Linked DNA regions of Homo sapiens: regions 2 and 3 are each linked to region 1. Evidence: fine-mapped expression QTL. A gene starts in region 1. Each other region holds a variant in brackets. All regions are shown on one strand. Distances are from middle to middle.

Region 1 (2,757 bases):
AGATCAGTTTTTACTTTAGGGCTATGGATAGTGGGAGTTGGGAGGGCAAGCAATAGTCTCAAAAATGTTCAAGGAATTAAAACACAAAAACGGAAAATTGCAAGTGTTGACAAGGTTGTGGAAACTTGGAACCCTCAAACATTGGTGATGGGAATGTAAAATGATTCATTCAGCTGCTGTGGAAAACTTTTTGGCAGTTCCTGGAAAAGTTAAACATAGAATTACCCTATGACCCAGAAAGTCCACTCCTAGGTATGTATCCAAAAGAACTGGGAACAGGTACTCAAATATGTGTACAGGCATGTTCAGAGCAGCACTATTCACAATAGCCAAAAGGTGGAAGTAACCCAAATATCTATCAAGGGATGAATGAATAAACAAATTATAATATACACATACAATGGGATATTAATCAGCCATAAAAAGGAATGAAGTACTGATCCACGCCTCAACATGGATGAATCTTAAATACAGGCTAAGTCAAAGAAACGACACAAAAGGCCGCATATTGTATGGTTGCATTTATATGAAATACCCAGAAAAAAGTAAACTCACAGAGATAGAAAATAGCTGAGTCGTTGCCAGGGTCTGGAGGAAGGAGGGACTGGGGAATTACTGCTTAATGGAGTATGGATGTTTCAGAACTAGATAGAAGTGGTTGCTCAACATTATGAATGTAATAAATGCCACCAAATCGTTCGCTTTTAAGTGGTTTATGTTATGCGAATTTCACCTCAAAAAAAAAAAAAGTTAAAAAGCCTTCTCTGCCTTTCTCTGGGGTTGGAGTCTTCCCAATGGATCCAGGGCAAAAGAAACATCCAGCCACTCTGTTTGCGGGAGGAGCAAAGGGTGGCTTGTCCCGACAGTTTGAGCTGTTGTGCATGCATTTACACACGCATTAATTCCAAATGAGTCAGCACAGTGTCCGAGACAGGTCCTGGGCTCCAGTGAGCACAGTCGCTCTCCTGGGGGAGGCACGTTCCACAAATTAACAGAAGTTCTGATAAACTCAGCATAGGGGGATTCGCTGTCCCAAGTATCAAGGAGTCCTAAAAGAAAAGGGCCTATTTCAGTCGGGGGACCTGGACTGAACTAACTCGTGTTCATGGCCGCCAAATCCCGTGTGACAAATGTATTCTTTTGTTGTTCATAGAAATAAAACAGTTTTTCGGGCCGCTTCAGGAGCTCCTCTGCAAAGGTGGGGAAAAAAGGCAACTAAATCAGCACGAGGACGTCAGCCCGAGGATGTCAGGAGCGGGGTCGGTGCGGACGGGCAGGTGGGCGGGGGGGCACCCCGCGCCCCGCCCCAGTCCCCTGGAGGCCGGCGGCCGCAGCTCGGGGAAGTGGGGACTGGCGCGGGGCCGCGCTCCCGCCCTCCTCGGCGGCGCCGACGGACCGGCAGGCGGCGGGCGGTCCGCGAGGGGGCGGCGGCGTCCGGGCTTTGTGGCCGCGGCGCGCGCGGCGGGGCCTGGCCGGCCGGGGGCGCGCCGCCGCCGCCGCCGCCGCCCGGCGTTCGGGAGCCCGCGGCCCTCCCGGCCGCCCTGCTTGCGAGAGGAGCCCAGGCCGCCCGCCCTCGCGCCTCGCCGGCCCCTCCCCCGGTCGCCGCGGCTGCCGCGCCGCCGCTGCAGGTAGGAGGCTCCCCTTCCGGGCGGGCCGCAGCCGGGCGGGGGCGGGGGTGGGGGGCGCGGGCCGGGCGTAGAGGGGGCCGGGGGCCGGCATGGAGGGTTTTCGGGCCGAGCCGCTGCGACCCCGGCCTTGCAGGCTGGGCGCCGGGCGGCCGCCTCTGCGCGCCGCGATGGGACTCGGTGAGTAGGGCCGGCCTGCTGCCTACAAAGCCCCGGGGCGCGGGCCTCTGGGGTACTCAGTGGCGCGCCCACGGCTGGGAGCGGGGTGGGCTTTGGACTCCCGGGCTCGGGGAGCTGCTCGGGGGGAATCCAGGTGACCTGCAGTACCGCGGTCTTCCCATCCCGGCGTCCCCACTGTGTGCTGATCACTGTGCTCGGCGCTTTTCCATACTTGTCTCCTTTAAGACCTCCAGTGCCCCGCCCGTCCAGAGTGTAACGGGAGGGATCCCTCACTTGCAGGATGAAGGCCGAGCATCACATCCTTGCTTGACTGACCTTGGGAAAGCTCCTTTACTCCGAGCCGGGGCTACTGTTTCTGTAAATTAGAGGCGGGGGTCGGGGGGGCGTGGTATAATATCTACCCTCAGGTACTATTGTGAAAGATAATGTATGTAAATGATAACAGCTAAATTTTGAGCACTCTGTATGTACCAGGCCCTAGGTACTAAACAGTTGGCATGAATTATCATTGAATCATCACCCTGGCGCTGTGAGGTAGTTACTGTAAATTGCATGAATAATCTTTATTTAGGAGTACGAAACAGTGAAGAATTTAGTCTCCCTATTCCGATTCAGGAGGTTGGGTATTTCTTAGGCGTGATAACATTTAACATTACAGACGTTCCTGCAGTATCGAGGAGAGTAGTTATAGGATGCAGGGATATATTTGTCATACATTTAAAACTGGAGGTAGGATAATATCAGGGCCAGAGAGTGTGCCTTTCAGCATGTCAGAGCAGATGATTGTATTCCAAGGAAATTGCTGAATATTAATTAAAAAACATAGTTTCTGAGTTAGGATTGAGGATGGCTGTGGGAGTCCAGGGCCAGAGAGAGACATGGGATGGACAAGGGGGAGAAGAAGGATTCTGAAGTCCTGGAGGAAGATGTAGAGGAAGGCACCAGGGTTCAC
Region 2 (2,757 bases), 190 kb after region 1:
TTGTATTGGGTGCATATATATTTAGGATAGTTAGCTCTTCTTGTTGCATTGATCCTTTTACCATTATGTAATGCCCTTCTTTGTCTCTTTTGATCTTTGTTGGTTTAAAGTCCATTTTATCAGAGACTAGGATTGCAACCCCTGCTTTTTTTTTGCTTTCCATTTGCTTGGTAAATATTCCTCCATCCCTTTATTTTGAGCCTATGTGTGTCTTTGCACATGAGATGGGTCTCCTGAATACAGCACACCAATGGGTCTTGATGCTTTATCCAATTTTCCAGTCTGGGGGCATTTTAATTGGGGCATTTAGACCGTTTACATTTAAGGTTAATATTGTTATGTGTGAATTTGATCCTGCCATTATGATGCTAGCTGGTTATTTTGCTCATTAGTTGAGACAGTTTCTTCATATTTTCAATGATCTTTACACTTTGGCATGTTTTTGCAGTGGCTGGTACCAGATGTTCCTTTCCATGTTTAGTACTTCCTTTAGGAGCTCTTGTAAAGCAGGTCTGGTGGCTGGTGGTGACAAAATCTCTCAGCATTTCCTTGTCTGTAAAGGATTTTATTTCTCCTTTGCTTATGAAGCTTAGTTTGGCTGGATATAAAATTCTGGGTTGAAAATTACTTTTTTTAAGAATGTTGACTATTGTCCCCCGCTCTTTTCTGGCTTGTAGGGTTTCTGCCAAGAGATCTGCTGTTAGTCTGATGGGCTTCCCTTTGTGGGTAGCCTGACCTTTCTCTGGCTGCCTTTAACATTTTTTCCTGCATTTCAACCTTGGTGAATATGACTATTATGTGTCTTGGGGTTGCTCTTCTTGAGAAGTATCTTTGTGGTGTTATCTGTATTTCCTGAATTTGAATGTTGGTCTGTCTTGCTAGGTTGGTGAAGTTCTCCTGGATAATATCCTGAAGAGTGTTTTCCAGCTTGGTTCTGTTCCCTGTGTCACTTGTAGGTACACCAATCAAATGTAGATTTGGGTTTTTCACATAGTCCCACATTTCTTGGAGGCTTTGTTAATTTATTTTCACTCTTTTTTTCTCTAATCTTGTCTTCTCACTTTATTTCATTGAGTTGATCTTCAGTCTCTGATATCCTTTCTTCTGCTTGATCGATTCAGCTATTGATACCTGTGTATGCTTCATGAAGTTCTCGTGCTGTGTTTTTCAGCTCCATCAGGTCATTTATGTTCTTCTTTAAAACGGCAGTTAGCAATTTGTCTAACCTTTTTTCAAGGTTTTTAGCTTCCTTGCATTGGGTTAGAACGTGCTCCTTTAGCTTGGAGGAGTTTGTTATTACCTACCTTCTGAAGCCTACTGTCAATTTTCAAATTCATTCTCTGTCCAGTTTTGTTCTCTTGCTGGCGAGGAGTTGTGTTCCTTTGGAGGAGAAGAGGCGTTCTAATTTTCGGATTTTTCAGTCTTTTTGCACTGGTTTTTCCCCATCTTTGTGGATTTATCTACCTTTGGTCTTTGAAGTCGGTGACCTTCAGAAGTGATCTCTGAGTGGACATCCTTTTTGTTGATGTTGCTACTACTCCTTTCTGTTTGTTAGTTTTCCTTCTAACAGGCCCCTCTGCTGTAGGTCTGCTGGAGTTTACTGGAGGTCCGCTCCAGACCCTATTTGCCTGGGTATCAC[C/T]GGCAGAGGCTGCAGAACAGCAAAGATTGCTGCCTGTTCCTTCCTCTGGAAGCTTCATCCCAGAGGGGCACCTGCAGATGTCAGCCAGAGCTCTCCTGTATGAGGTGTCTGTCGGCCCCTACTGGGAGGTATCTTCCAGTCAGGATACACAGGGGTCAGGGACCCACTTGAGAGGGCAGATTATCCCTTATTAGAGTTCGAAAGCTGTGCTGGGAGATCTGCTGCTCTCTTCAGAGCCATCAGGCTGGGACGTTTAAGTCTGCTGAAGCTGGGCCCAAAGCTGCCCCTTCCCCCAGGTGCTCTGTCCCAGGGAGATGGGGGTTTTATCTATAAGTCCCTGACTGAGCTGGTGCCTTTTTTTTCAGAGATGCCTTTCCCAGAGAGGAGGGAGTCTAGAGAGGCAGTCTGGCTGCAGCTGCCTTGCTGAGCTGCAGTGGGCTCCGCCCAGTTTGAACTTCCTAGTGGCTTTCTTTACACCGTGAGGGTAAAACCCTACTCAAGCCTGGGCAGTGGCGGATGTCCCTCCCCCCACCAAGCTCAAGCATTCCAGGTCGAGCTCAGACCACTGTGCTGGCAGTGAGAATTTCAAGCCAGTGGATCTTGGCTTGCCGGGCTCTGTGGGAGTGGGACCCACTGAGTCAGACCACTTGGCTCCCTGGCTTCAGCCCCCTTTCCAGGGGAGTGAACGGCTCTGTCTCACTGGTGTTCCAGGTGCCACTGGGGTATGAAAAAAAACTCCTGCAGCTAGCTCGGTGTCTGCCCAAACGGCTGCCCAGTTTTGTGTTTGAAACCCAGGCCCCTGGTGGTCTAGGCATCGGAGGGAATCTCCTGGTCTGTGGGTTGCAAAGACCATGGGAAAAGCACAGTATCTGGGCCAAAGTGCACGGTACAGCCCCTAATGGCTTCCCTTGGCTAGAAGAGGGAGTTTCCCAACCCCTAGCACTTCCTGTGTGAGGCAATACCCCACCCTGGTTTGGGTTGCCTTCCTTGGGCTATACCCACTGTCCAACCGTTCCCAATGAGAAGAACTGAGTACCTCAGTTGGAAATGCAGAAATCACCTGCCTTCTGTGTTGATCTCACAGGGAGCTGCAGACCAGAGTTGTTTCTATTTGTCCA
Region 3 (2,757 bases), 25 kb after region 1:
GTTTTTCAGAATCATTTGCTGTTTCAAATAGAGAACTGTGCGATGATGAGAAAGAGTTCATACATTTTCCAGTATGTGAGGGGACCTCTCAACCTGAACCCTCGTGTTCAGCTGTCAGAATAACAGCCAATAAAAACTACAGGAGCAAAACCTCTCAGGAAGGTGCTTTAAAAAAGATGCATGAGGAAGAACACCATCAACAAATGTCCATCTTACAACTGCAACTGATACAAATGAATGAGGTGCATGTGGCCAAAATCCAGCAGATAGAGCGAGAGTGTGAGATGGCAGAGGAGGAACACAGGATAAAAATGGAAGTTCTCAATAAAAAGAAGATGTATTGGGAAAGAAAACTACAAACTTTTACCAAGGAATGGCCTGTTTCCTCATTTAACCGGCCCTTTCCCAATTCGCCCTAAGACTTTGGGGGTGGCTCTCTTGTAATTAATCTGTGTTGGCAAAGAATGTCTGGAACATGGACTTGGCGGTCAGTAACCTGTAACAGAGCTACAACTAGGAAAATTAGAGTGGTAGTAGTCACTTATTTAAGAATTCATTCAGGTAAACAGCTGCACCCTCTGTACCCCTTAAGTGGCAAAGAAGCTGTTATAGTCTTCTGAAAATTATCACTATGAGTGCTATAATTCTGAATATAATGTCTCTTAATTAGAATTCATACAAGAACCACGTGTGAGTGTTGTTGTTGTTGTTTTTTTTTTTAATCAAATGCAAGTGTGACTATAAAGGAGTGTGGCTGATTTTTTTTTTTTTCTTTTTTCTTTTTAAACAGACAGCAGAACTTTTCTATCCAAATGAATGCCGTCCCATGGAAAGTGGCTGTCCTGGGAGGCTACACGTTTCTCCAATGGTGATGCTGTTGCTCAGAACTTGCTAGAGGTCTTTAGGGAACCTCCGTGAGAGCTGCAGCACCTTTTTAATTTTCTCGGTGTCATCCTCTGAGTATGGATTTTCTGTTTTTAAACAGCCCAAAGTTTAGAAGGGTATTTTCTAATGTGGCTCATAAACCACCTTTTAAGGCCTTTCCTCAAACAGGAGTTCTAAATAAGTCTCCAACAATAGTAGTTTTGTTGGAGCTAAGGATGTAACTACTTTGAGG[A/G]AGAAATGTTCGTTTAGATTTCTACATTCTGTTATGTTGGTTTTATTAAAAAAAAAAAAAAGACTTGCAATTTTATAGTCACACTGTGTATGTTTTTTAAAGGTGCTGCCTTCCCAGCTGTGCTCCAGTTTTTCTCTTCTCTCTCTAGTTTCCTCCCAGCTTTGTACTACTGAGTTGATAGTTGCCCTTGCTTTTAGTCTTTAGCTACCAAAGGAAAGGCCCTTCCCTCACCATGCTCATGGTGCTAGCCAGTAGTAATGCTTTGTAGCTGGCATTACATAATTAGCATTGGGCCTTTTGAGGATCCATTACCAACATATTCGGAAATATGGATTGATAAATGGATATTTTGACTGAGCTGCAGTATAGCTTCTCCTGTAGCCTCTTGTTAAAAACAGCCCCGGGTGTTGGGGACAGCAGTAGCTGGAAGCAGCAAAGTGACACTTAAGTGCCAAGGCAGATCAGCAGTTTCTGACAGTGAGAGTTCAAGGCCATGTGGTGGGGAAGGAGGAGTATATGTGGCAGAGTCCACATAAGTGGTATAGGCCTTGGAGTCAGGGCCTGAATTCTAAGCTCAACTCTCCGTCAAGTTGCCGTATGAATGTGGGTAACTCCTTTTAACCCTTGGTGTAGTGTTTCCTGTCCACAGAACAAGGGAGTTGGGCTAGATGACGTTCCAAGTCTGTTACAACTTCTTGGCTATGGTGTGGTCTGTATAGTCTTTTTTTTTTTTTTTTGAGACGGAGTATCACTCTGTCGCCTAGGCTGGAGTACAGTGGCACCATCTTGGCTCACTGCAAGCTCCACCTCCCAGGTTCACGCCATTCTCCTGCCTCAGCCTCCCGAGTAGCTGGGACTACAGGCGCCCACCACCACGCCTGGCTAATTTTTTCTATTTTTTAGGAGAGACAGGGTTTCACCGTGTTAGCCAGGATGGTCACGATCTCCTGACCTCGTGATCCACCTGCCTCGGCCTCCCAAAGTGCTGGATTACAGGCATGAGCCACCGCGCCCGGCTGGTCTGTATAGCCTTGGATGAGTACTGCCCACATCATAATCAGCTGGAGAGCATGGGTCAATAGGGAGAAATTGTTTACTGCAATGGCTAACCTTCCCTCCTGCATAATTTTGGAATTTGGGGACTGGGGACCATAAGTTTGGTAAGGTACACATATACTTGCTATTTATGCACAGCACACAAAACGGGTATGAATTTATTTTAAACACCGAATTATATTTTCAATGTCTTAGAGGAACTGGTTATTTGAAGAAAGCCTGTGAAGACTAGTCTTCTTTGAAAGAAAAGATCCTTTTGTAAGGATTTATGTTCTTAATTTAGTTTTTACCAAATGGACCCTTTTAGAGAAAGAAGCATCAGGATAAAGTCCCAATCTTCAGTGGTTTGTGGAAGAGAGAATCTGATGATTCATGCCCTCCTACCCTGTTAGAATTAGGACAGGGAATGGCAGACCCTAAACATACATGTGAACTGAGCAAAGATTGCCTTTGCTTCACCTATTGACACATTTAAGAACCTCGTTTTATAGAGAGTACGGAGTGGGGTCTGAGATTCTACATTTCTTACAAGTTCCTGGTTTATGCCAGTTCTGTTTGTCTGGTCACCACACTTCTGAATAGCA

The links. PIP is the estimated chance that this variant, and not a neighbour inherited with it, causes the effect. A credible set is the group of variants that fine-mapping cannot tell apart.
Region 2: its variant is the best candidate, but not a certain one, in a credible set for the expression of MSANTD3 in whole blood (Lepik 2017, PIP 0.67).
Region 3: its variant is the best candidate, but not a certain one, in a credible set for the expression of MSANTD3 in unexposed skin (GTEx, PIP 0.55).

Annotation. Positions count from the first base shown.
Region 1 is chr9:100,425,766-100,428,522 of GRCh38, forward strand. It overlaps MSANTD3 (Myb/SANT DNA binding domain containing 3), which reads left to right and starts at 1,378. Exons shown (of 3, transcript NM_080655.3): 1 at 1,378-1,628. RefSeq lists silencers at 1,215-1,444, 1,485-1,714, 1,755-1,874.
Region 2 is chr9:100,617,294-100,620,050 of GRCh38, forward strand. No RefSeq gene overlaps it. Among named protein-coding and RNA genes, the nearest start is that of CAVIN4, 41 kb to the left of the region's middle. RefSeq lists enhancers at 1,763-2,263, 2,264-2,757. The variant C/T (reference allele first, on the strand shown) is at 1,640.
Region 3 is chr9:100,450,548-100,453,304 of GRCh38, forward strand. It overlaps MSANTD3 (Myb/SANT DNA binding domain containing 3), which reads left to right. Exons shown (of 3, transcript NM_080655.3): 3 at 10-1,187. The coding sequence ends at 419. The region is part of intron 1 of MSANTD3-TMEFF1 (MSANTD3-TMEFF1 readthrough); the gene reads left to right. Among named protein-coding and RNA genes, the nearest start is that of MSANTD3-TMEFF1, 10 kb to the left of the region's middle. The variant A/G (reference allele first, on the strand shown) is at 1,118.